Linked DNA regions of Homo sapiens. The protein of the gene in region 1 interacts with the protein of each later gene in a biochemical or structural test. Each region holds a gene or a part of one and is shown on either strand. Other genes may lie near its edges. The genes, in order: CYLD, CENPV and KLHL21.

What was found.
Region 2: of the proteins of CYLD (region 1) and CENPV, one has a biochemical effect on the other in vitro, tested with the Homo sapiens proteins (one study listed by BioGRID).
Region 3: the proteins of CYLD (region 1) and KLHL21 form a complex in vitro, tested with the Homo sapiens proteins (one study listed by BioGRID).

What each region holds. Positions count from the first base shown.
Region 1 is NC_000016.10:50,744,967-50,748,713, reverse strand, and holds part of CYLD (ubiquitin carboxyl-terminal hydrolase CYLD), read right to left. Parts: intron 1-3,747. UniProt on the Homo sapiens protein: Deubiquitinase that specifically cleaves 'Lys-63'- and linear 'Met-1'-linked polyubiquitin chains and is involved in NF-kappa-B activation and TNF-alpha-induced necroptosis.
Region 2 is NC_000017.11:16,352,111-16,355,857, forward strand, and holds the start of CENPV (centromere protein V), read right to left. Parts: upstream 1,360-3,747; 5' UTR 1,327-1,359; coding exon 917-1,326; intron 1-916. UniProt on the Homo sapiens protein: Required for distribution of pericentromeric heterochromatin in interphase nuclei and for centromere formation and organization, chromosome alignment and cytokinesis.
Region 3 is NC_000001.11:6,601,031-6,604,777, forward strand, and holds the start of KLHL21 (kelch-like protein 21), read right to left. Parts: upstream 1,840-3,747; 5' UTR 1,788-1,839; coding exon 767-1,787; intron 1-766. UniProt on the Homo sapiens protein: Substrate-specific adapter of a BCR (BTB-CUL3-RBX1) E3 ubiquitin-protein ligase complex required for efficient chromosome alignment and cytokinesis.

The DNA.
Region 1 (3,747 bases):
CAGATATTATAATATGACTATATTAAAAATATTTTAAAAATCAATTTTGTAGCATCAAAACTTGTACTACATAGCAAGGGAATATCATGATATAACTGCATTATAATTTCTTTCTATTATTTCTTTTTCAAATTTTCATTTATTTTTATTTTATTTATTTATTTTTAAGACAGGGTCTCGCTCTGTCACCCAGGCTTGGGTACATTGGTGCGATCATAGCTCACTGCAGTTTCAAACTCCTGGACTCAAATGATCCTCCCACCTTGGCCTTCCAAGGTTCTAGGATTACAGGCATGAGCAACTGCACCTGGTCCTCATTTAAAATTTTTACAAGAATAATAATCTTTCCAATGAAGTAGGCTCATTCTCAAACCTATTTTAACTGATGGTTAAAAAACTACACAATTTCATTAATTTAAACTGAGACTTTACTTCATTATTTTAATTAATTTTCTGCTGAAAACAATACTTCCTAGGTATCCCTGTCATAAGAATGTGGCTATCTGGTTTCCAAAGACAGTACTTTCATTTCATCCTTCCTTGAGATAGAGGTATCCATTTCCATTATTCTGGGTAATGGCTGCAATTGATAGCACTATCATATTTATTTTATTCTAGCAATTAAAAAATAAATACTCCTAAAGAACCAAATTTTAGATTTAATCACTTAATGATCAAACAACCTGGCAAATCTATACACAGTGGAACACTTCTTTTAGAAAGCACTGCTAGATAATGAAGTATTCCATAATGGTAACGTTCCTAAAAGTCTCTCCCTCTACAAGCCAGCATGAGACATGTGGTTTAGCCAAGACAGGATACAGGTTAGGCACCTCCTTCAAACCAACATGACTGAAATATCTGTGTAACACTCAGTGAGGGTAAAAGCAGAGGTAGCATGAAGTGGTTCTCTTTTCTTCTTTTTTGTGGTGTGTTTGTTTTAATTCCACTTGAGGGCACTGTCTACTTCAGCAAGAATGGGATCAATTTATATTTGCCACTTATATAAGACACCTGTGGAAACCTCTATCTTGACACAATATAAACAAAACTCCTTATAAGGGCTGCCCAAACAGCTATCCAACCCCTCAATTTGGTTGGATTCCTTTAAAGGACCAAACTGAAGTGTTGGTTCTTTTTGACCAAAATGCTTTTAACATGTCAACACTTTCCACAAGAAAATGTCCTTATTTTTTTCTTGATCATTGATGTATCATTATGACTGTAAATTATTTTGCATAACTCTTGATCTGCAAGGCTGTTATTTTGTTAAAAGGCTGTATCTTATGCTTCCTGAGGTCGCGAATGCTTTCTACAGATCTACTGTCTAGAGTTTTCCCTTGCAATCAGCCATTTTCTGTGGTTTCCTGCTGTATGCATTTGACTCCTTTTACGGCCTTGTTGCTTTCCAACTTATCGCTTCGAATCAGTTCTGAGAAGCCAGGTAGTGAAATATGTTTGTGTGTTTGAAAACACAAAGCAACAATCGTGAAAAGAGGAATGCATACATTCTGAAAGGGTCTTTAGGAGCAAAGGGCACATAGGCTTTATTGAATAGAGAGTCTGGTCACTAGCAGAAGGTTAAGACAGTCAAAAAGCAACTTTCAAAAAAACGAGCTGTTGTTTTGGTTCTCTTTAAAATGTATTTAGATTTTTAGGGCCAAAATTTTTTTGAAAAAGGTAAAGTAATTCTATTTTGAAAAGAAATTCTTTTTTAAAATTCCTAAGAACAATGTCTTCAAATATTACAATCAGAAACTTCCCTGAATCTTAATAATTGCTTTATACCAACAGCTCCTACTCTATTGGTCCTGTAGCTTAACTATTCATGTCACAATTTAAAATAAAAATCATTAATGCTAATAATCTATTATTAAGACAAAACTAAATTACTATATGTGCATTAGGACATTATGTTAAATAAATTTGATTATAAGCTTGCTTTCTGAAATAATTTAAGGAAGAGAATCCACAGTAAAAATTGATATAACTGCTAGGTTTATAAAAATGTTTTAGGGTAATAAACTATAGCTTTCAAGTACCATATTTTAAAGTGAACTCTACAAGGAGTGGTAACTTTTTTCCTAACTTTCATTAGCACAAGTGGAAATGAGCTTAGACTTAGCAATAGGATGGGTCATGTTAGACAACTAAAATAGTCAAGCACAAGTTATCAAATATTTCAAAAGCATTATCCAAAAATAAAGGATACAGCCTTTCCTCTTTCAGAAAGAATATATTAAGAACAAGTTTGAAACTCTCTTATTAAAAATTGATTCTCTTCACTGCAACTGATAGAGAAAGTTGAATGGGAAACTTTACGGCTCGAGTCTAGAGATATACAAGGCAATCAACTGAATGATCACTAATATTCTCGGCCAGGCACAGTGACTCACGCCTGTAATCCCAACACTTTGGGAAGCCAAGGTGAGTGGACAGCTTGAGCCCAGGAGTTTGAGACCAGCCTGTGCAACACAGTGAAACCTCATTTCTACAAAAAGTACAAAAGTTAGCCAGGTGTGATGGCATGTGCCTGTAGTCCCAGCTACTTGTGAGGCTGAGGTGGGAGGATGGCTTGAGCCCTGGAGGGAGGGACTGCAGCAAGCCATGATCACGCCACCGCACTTCAGCCTGGGTGAAAAAGCAAGACCCTGTCACACACTCTCTCACATATATACACACTCCATTATATATATATATTTATTTTATGTACTCAAAATACCAGTATTGCAATAAAAATATGCTAACATACATTTCTCCCCACTGTAGAAGTGAATATAACACCAACAGTCTACTTTCACTGGGATGTGCATAGTAGTTAAATAGTTAAAGTCTTAGGTACCCCAAGCAGTAAAAACTGACTCAACACAATATGAAGGGAAAGATCTAAATCACATTGTAAATGAGTTATTTATCATCAAGAAGGTTGGTTTGTTAGTTTGGTATTTTTTACGCTTTCAGTACAGAGTTAGATACTGAAAACTACATCATCTAGGCTAGGCACAGTGGCTCACTCCTGTAATCCCAGCACTTTGGAGGCTGAAGTGGGAGGATCCCCTAAGCCCTGGAGTTCAAGGCTTTAGTGAGCTGTGATAGCACTACCGCACTCCTGCCTGGGTGACAGAATGAGAGCCTGTCCCAAAAGGAAGAAAAAAAAAGAAAAGAAAATTAGCCGGGTGTGGTGGTGTCTGCCTGTGGGCCCAGCTACTCAGGGTCCCAGCTACTCTGGAGGATGGGAAGATCGCTAGAGCCCAGGAGGTCCAGGCTGAAGAGAGCTATGATCACACCACTGTACTCCAGCCTGGGTGACAGAGCAAGACCTGGTCTCAAAAAAAAAAAAAAAAAAAAAAACAAAGAGGAAAGAGAGAACACACACAAAAAAAAACCCAACATCAATCCACATTCACTCAGCTTCTGCCTTTAAGTAAAGGCCTAGGGAACAGTAAGACAACTGAAGGAAAAAGAAGCACAGCTAAATTCAAAGTCACCGTAGGGCAGGTGGGGGTGAGGGGTCAGTGTGAAGGGAGAAATTTTCACTTGTATTCTCTTATTATTTTGCAGGTTGAATCACTTTGAGTGAGTATATCACAAATGACTCATCTAAATACTATCTTACTTCAGGCTGGATAACTGTGTGATTATGAATATCTTGGTAATAAATACTGAATGAAAATTACCAACGAGTTGAAACACAATAATATGTTTAACCCTAAAGCCATGTTGAACAGAAGGCCTTTCCTTTAAGGA
Region 2 (3,747 bases), on another chromosome or scaffold:
GTTATTCTTGTCGGTTTTTTCCCCCTAGTGTTTTGATTGTTCTTTTTAATTCGTAAAATTGACACTGAAATATAATATCAGGGCGTTAAAATATCTCTCTGTAGCACAACTGTTCCCCGAGGCAGGAATCCAGATCGCATTTGGAGAAAAGAAGGCAGCCCTTTAACAGCCCAGTTAAAAGCTCTTTCCCAAATCGCGGACACTCGAGATGCTCCTCGGGCCATCTAAAAGACTGCGGAGCAGCCAGGAGGGCGAGCGGCAGGGAGCATTAGCTGGCTGAGCACATAAAAGCCTCCCTACGTAGGTATCCCCGCCGCCGCGCGAGGCCGGAGCATCTCTTCGCGCGCGCTTCTCTCCCGGATCAATAACCTCCGCCCCCTGCTCCCTCCCTGGCAGTGCCTGGAACAATGACGGGATTTTGCTTCCCAGTGAGTTCAAAACTATTCATGCTTCCTTCAACGCTTCTACCTTTCCCTTCCACCCACCCTCAAAAACACGTGTGCAAACACAAAAAAAAAGGGGATTCGGGTAAGAGAAAGCCGTGGGATTTATGTTCTTTTCACTAAGAAAGGCCCCCACACCCTTTGCGCGCCAGCAAGAGACAACGTCCCCGAGCACGATGCTTATGGCCGGGAAAGACTCTTTGTGTCCCAAGACGGCTGCGCGCGCCCTCAAGCTCCGGACGAAGCCCCCTTTCCATTCCCAGGCCACACAGCCCTAGAAGCACCGCCCCGCCCCGCCGCCCTTAGAATTAAGGAATAACCCCAGTGCTAACGGGGGAGCCGCGTCGGCTCCGTAACGTGGAAGGCTCAGAGCTGAAAGGCGCCCAAGGCCTGCACGCGGGCTGCGAGCCCGACTCCTGCCGAGGGGGTCCGCGTGGCAACGGCTCCCGCGCCCCCCGGCCCGCCGCACTCACAAGGTGTCTAGCAGGAGCTTGGCGGCACCCTCGGAGGTAAGCTTCTGCCGCTTCTGGAACGTCTCCCAGCGCTCCCGCTGCTCGCCCAGGTCCAGGTTGGACGCCGAGGACGTCGGGGTCGCGGGAGTCGGCGGCGGCGGCGGCGGTGGCGGGAGCAACGCCAGCTCAGGCGGCGGCGGCTCCCCCGGGCCCTCCTCCTGGGCCCGCGGCGACGAGCGCCTCAGCCGCGGCTTCTCCGACGGCGGCTTCTCCACCGCCTGGCTCTTGCTCCCGGCCTGGCTAGCGGAGCGCCGTGTGCGGGTGGCGCTGGGTGCCAAGGCAGCGGCCGCGGAGGCCGCGGGGGCCGCGGAGGCCCCGGACCGCTTCTGCCCGCGCAGCTTGGCGGCCGCAGAGCTCCTCGATCGCCGCATGGCTCCCGCAGCCTGGCGCGCAGGCCTCGCAGCGCGGCGCGCCCCCGCCGGCCTGCGCGCGCCCCCGCCGCCCGCCAGTCTTCAGGCCCAGGGGGCGCTGCGCCCGGCTGCCCCGCTCCGCCAGCCGCGCCCCGCAGCGCGGCGCCTGCCCGCAGGAGGGAGACCCGGCCCGCCCGGCCGCTGGGACGCACCTGCCTGTTCAGTCCCGCAGGCAGAGGGGCTGCGCCTGGGCCTACGCTCGCGATACCCAGAATCCACTCGCACCTGCGAAGGCGCCCCTGCCCTGTGTGAATCCAGCGGGCTCTTCGTACCTTCCCGACCTGGAGGGGCCTGGGTTGGGCCTGAATTCGCAGGCTCATCCGAGCGGGCAGCCTGGGGTAACTTCGTCTCCAAAAACGAGCTAATTTGTGTAAACGGCCTGCCACCTGCTACCTCCTGTGTAACAGCGGCCGAAACCATAGTTCTTCACCTTCGTCTTTTCTGTCACATTATAGAACAGTGTCATGAGGATACCAATAGTCAACAGATTTGGGGTTTCATTTTAATTAAATGAATGACCCGCGCGTCGAATTTCATTAGTATGATTTTGATGAAGGCAGCACCAAAGTTTAAAGACAAAAGGCACGAGAATCGTTGATGGAACCCAGATAGTCTTCTTCTCCTTCTCCTTCTTCTTCTTTTTTCAGACCGAGTTTCGCTCTTGTTGCCCAGGCTGGAGTGCAGTGACGCGATCTCGCCTCACCGCAACCTCCGCCTCCCAGGTTCAAGCGATTCTCCTGCCTCAGCCTCCTGAGTAGCTGGGATTACAGGCATTCGCCACCACACCCGGCTAATTTTGTATTTTTAGTAGAGACGGGGTTTCACCATGTTGGTCAGGCTGGTGCCGAATACTCCCGACCTCAGGTGATCCATCCGCCTCGGCCTCCCAAAGCGCTGGGATTACAGGCCTGAGCCACCGGGCCCAGCCTATCTTTCTTTTTTTTTTTTTTTTTTTTTTCTTTTTTGGAGTCTCACTCTGTCGCCAGGCTGGAGTGCAGTGGCGCGATCTCGGTTCACGCAACCTCCGCCTCACCGTTCCAGCGATTCTCCTGCGTCAGCCTATCTTTCTTCTTTATTCTGATTTTCTTCATGGTATTGTTAGTTTAATAGTTTATTGAATTAAAGGCATAGTTTAACTATTTTGTCTTTTTTTTTTTTTTTCCATACAGGATCTGACAGACTGGAGTGCAGTAGCGGGATCTCGGCTCAGTGTAGCCAAGAACTCCTGGCCTCAAGCGATCCTGCCGCCTGGGCCTCTGGAGTAGCTGAGTAGCTGGAACAACAGGCGGCGCCCCCCCCCCCCCCCCCCCGCCCCAGCGAATTGTTGCTATTGTTGTTTTGTAGATACCGGGTTTCCCTATGTTGCCCAGGCTGGTCTCTAACTCCTGGCCTCAAGCGATCCTCCCGCCTAGTTCTCCCCAAGTGTTGGGATTACAGGCGTGAGCCACCGAGCCCCACCTTGCCATTTTGTCGTTGTTGTTGTTGGAATTATGGTTTACACACAGCAACGTGCAAATATCTTAGATGTACAGCTTATGTGACCACCACCACTTCAGATACAGAACATTTTCAGCACACCAGAGTTTCCCTCAGGCAAAAGAAAACAGAGGCGATCACTGTTCTTTTACCACCATAGGTTGGTTTTGCTTATTCTTGAACATCATTTTAAAACGGCACGTAGGCCGGGCGCAGTGGCTCATGCCTAATCCCAACACTATTGGGAGGCCGAGGTGCTCAGATCGCTTGAGCCCAGGAGTTTGAGACCAGGAGGTGGAAGCTGCGGTGAGCTGTGATTACACCACCATATTCTACTCTGGGTGACAGAGTGAGACCTTGTCTCAAAAAAAAAAAAAAAAAAAAAAAGCTGGGTGTGGGGAGTGGTTATCCTTGAGGAGAACTAACTGGGAAAGAGAACAAAGGACTCTTCTAAGATGCTGGATATGGCCAGGCACAGTGGCTCATGCCTGTAATCCCAGCACTTTGGGAGGCGGAGGTGGGCAGGAGTTTGAAACCAGCCTGGCCAACATGGGGAAACCCTGTCTCTACTAGAAATACAAAAACTAGCTGGGCATGCTGGCAGGCACCTGTAATCCCAGCTACTCGGGAGGCTGAGACAGGAGAATCGCTTGAATTCAGGAGGTGGCGGTTGTAGTGAGCCGGAGGTTGCACCATTGCACTCCAACCTGGGCAACAGAGTAAGACTCCGTCTCAAAGAAAAAAAAAGATACTGGATATGTTCTCTACATTATCTTGATCTGGGTGGTAGTTATGGAGGTGTGTAAAACACATAAAAACACTTCAGTGTGTGTAAGACTTAGCTCAATTTAAAAATGAAGAACATGGCTGGGCATGGTGGCTCACGCCTGTAATCCCAGCACTTTG
Region 3 (3,747 bases), on another chromosome or scaffold:
CCTCACACGCCTGCCTGGTGGGTTCTTTCCTTATATAGCAGTCACAGAGACCGCCCTTCCTCACCCCGACAAAGGAGGTAGCCTCGTGTTTGAACTGGGATTTATCTTTAATAAAAACCGTAGAAGCCCAAACTCAGGCGGACTGGGACCCGCCTACCATGACTCGGCAGTGTTTTGGGGTTTGGGCCAAGTAACTGGAAGAAAACCTCTTAACATGTGACCATGTTTACAGGCTCCGGGGAGTTCAGCCTAAACACCATGTGACCAGAGCACAGAGCCTAGGTGCAAGCCCAAGGGAACCTTGTCACCGGGTGACAAAGAGTGAGTCAGGGGGCCCGGTGTGGCTCAGCAGGGAGGGAGAAATTCCCCGGCTTGTGGGGAACAGATGCCTCACCGGGCGTCGGCCTCCTGCCCGTCCCTGGATTCCTTAAGGAGAAAAAGAAAGCACCCATTGTGCGGGGTGAATGCCCCAGTATCTTCCAACCAAGTGGGGAGGCACCTCCTGGGCACGGAGTTGGCTCAGCCTGGCAGCCCCGGCCGCACGGGGCACAGAGACCCACAAGCAGCTACTTGTCCCGGCTCACACAAGGGGCCCTTCTTCAAGGTTAAAAGTATCGCCCAGAGACATGTAGTCACCAGAGCCCCAGCTTGGACTCAGGTGCGCCCCTAGGATTCCAGGCTCTGTGCGCTTCCCCCGCGAATAGCTGGGCTCCCGTACCGGCGAGGTTCAACCCCAGAGAGCCTGCCCAGCCCCTGGCCCACTCACCCGTCACGTAGATGTCATTGCCCAGCGCCACGATGCTGTAGCCTCCGCCCAGGTGGTCTGGGAACTCGGCCAGGTAGCGCCACTGACCCGTCTGCGGGTTGTAGCAGTCGACAGTGACCAGCTCGTCACAGTCCTGGTCGCAGCCGCCCACGAGCACGAGGATCTCGGCGAGACCGGTGGACGGGCGAGGACGCATTCGGGGACAGGGCCCGCGGTCGTGGCGGTCGTAGCGCGCCGCCTGGAAGTCGCGCGCCTCGCGCAGCAGGCGCAGGCAGGGTGGGCAGCGCGCCACCAGCGGCTCGGCCTCGACGTGCGCCAACAGGTAGAAGCGGCGCACGAAGGGCAGGCGCACGGCCTCCAGCAGCTGCGGCCAGTGCGCGGCGCGGCGCGGCGGGTCAGCGCGGACCCAGCGCAGCGCCAGCTGGTAGGCGGCCTCCTCCTTGGGCACACACAGCCCGTCGTCCCGCAGGTAGCGCAGCAGGCGCGCCAGTGGCAGCCGCTCCAGCTGCTCGGCGCCCAGCTCGCCCACGTGGCGCAGAATGAACCGCTGCGCCGCGCTCGCCAGTCCCGAGCAGCTGAAGGCCTCAGCGAAGTCCTGCATGTCCAGGCAGTTGGCCAGGTCGAGCTGCTGCTGCAGGAAGGCCCCGCACGCCTCCTTCACGGCCGGGAACTGCAGCAGGTCGGCGGCGCGCAGCAGCGGCTCAGCGTTGTCGCCGCTTACCGCCACGCGGCCCGTGTAGCTGAAGTCCAGCAGCAGCTGCAGCATGTCGGGAGGCACTCCGTGCAGGCGCACCCGCTCGGCGCGGCTCTCGCGCAGCTGCCCCGCGAACATGGCGCGGAAGTAGGGGCTGGCGGCGGCCAGCACCGCACGGTGCGCCGGGAAGTCGCGCCCGCCCGCCGCCTCCAGGGTCACGTCCAGGAACTTGCGCTCGGCGCGCAGCTGGCTCAGGCCGCGCAGCAGGCTCAGGGCGTGCGCGGGGTCCGAGAAGGGAAGCACGGCCAGGGGCGCCGGTCGCTCCATGGCGCCTTCGATAGGTTGTCGAGGACGCCGCGGCCGGGGCCTGCGGAGAGACGCGGCGCGCTAGGCACCGCTGCTATAAATAGGGCGGGGCGCCGCGGCTCTCGAGGGGCGGGATGGGCGGGGAGACGTCTGCACCGCCCCCTTAACCCCTCTGTGCCGGGCGCCACCGCCCCCCGCGAGCGCGGGCTCGCCTGTCCCCCGCGCGGCGCCCGCCCCCGGCTCCGCAGGCTGAGTCACCGCTGTCCGCGGCCGGCTCCCTCCCTCCGCCCTTCTGCGTCTCCCCGCTGACGCCCGGGCCGGGGACAGCGAGTGACAAGTGCCAGGTCCGAGGGCGGCCTCGCCGCGCGCCGGGACCGGGGGCCTCCCGGGGTTGCCCACGACCCACCCGGCCCGGCTGCTGAACCCAACCCGGGAGAGGCGAGCTCGGCCCTGAAACCAAAGCCACCCCTCCTTTCACGCCAGACTTCCCAAGGGCGCCGGCCCAGGTCCCGGGGCGGCTGGGTACAATGGCTTTTTGTTTTGCTTTTGAGTTCCACTAGTTTCAAGGGTTGCTAGTTAACCCCATCACGGGACACACTCAAAGGATAGGCTTTTTACCATTCTGGACCAAAGCAAGAACGCGTATAAAGTTTTTCGGTGACGTTTTTTTCTTGGCGCATTTATAAGCGACCCGGGGCCGGATTCCAGGAGTCGGCCCCACTCCTGTGTTCCTGAAGGAGCTTCTGACTCAATCACACAGGCGTTAACTTTAGTCGGCTTCACGCGCAGTTGTAGTTTCCGAGTCTGCGTCGCAGCTGCAGGCTCCGGGGCTGCCCGCCCTAGGGGCTCCCGGGCCTCCCTGAAGCAGCTGCTCGGACTCCACGAGAGGGTAACTGGGTATAAAGAGCGAGGGCTCAAAGTCAGATAGGAGACCGCCTTGAAACTAGATGACGCCACTAAGCACAGTCCCGCCGTCACTTGTACTGCGGTGGGGAATGGTGAAAGAAGGAATCGCCCTTATTTTAGTTCCGATAGACACAGCACCACTTTGAATGTCACTTGTAGGGGAAAAAGAGCCCTCCCTTGGAGGCCATTTTTTCCTCAGTGGAAGGTAGGCTTTGCTCAGTTTTAGAAAAGACCCCTATTTCACCACCAGGACTGCTGCTTTGCAGAGAACACTTGGGTTTGTGCTGTTTTCCAGCCCCCCTACACCGGTGGGCCTTTGAGAACGCATTCCTGAGGAAGGCGCCCGCCCACGTGGGTCCCAGAGCAGGCCACGCGCATGGGAGCTGGCTATCATTTCCTGGTTCCAGCGAGGTCTAGGGCCGCGTAGCGTTTCCAGAAGACATTTTGTTTTTATTCCACCTCTGAAATGAGAACCGCAGGCTTTCTCTTCTACTTAAGAGTTTCACGTCATTTTGCCATAAGAATGCATCTGGTCTGAATTTCAGGGTGAGCATGGGCAGCACAGGCCCAAATCAGAAAACATTCAGGTACCCAGGCGGGCCGCCTGTTGCCCATAGAAGGACTGTTCACACAGCTATTCAAGGCAGCGGCAGCATTCCTGGGCCCAGGAGCAGGGCCAATAGCTTCCTTGCACAGGCTTTGTGACAAGAAAGGCTGAGTAGCCAGGAAGTGGAATGTTTGTAGGGAAAAGAACTCCCGTCCCCTGGGTCAGCTTACCCATCTTGCGTAAGTCCAGTGATTAAATCAATAATGTTTCCATAGTTGAGGATTGAGTACGGTTTTTCTGTATTCCCAATAACAGGGATTTTTAAACATCATATTTCAGTCTTACTATGTAGCCTTGAAGAATAATGATGTATTTATTGAAATGGAAAGATGTTTGAGCTATAAAGCGAAAAATCAGATTACTCATTGTATGACCCAAATTGATTTATATGTATTCATATGCCTAAAAAAATTTATTAAGTTAACATTTTCGGCCAGGCGCCGTGGCTCACGCCTGTAATCCCAGCAC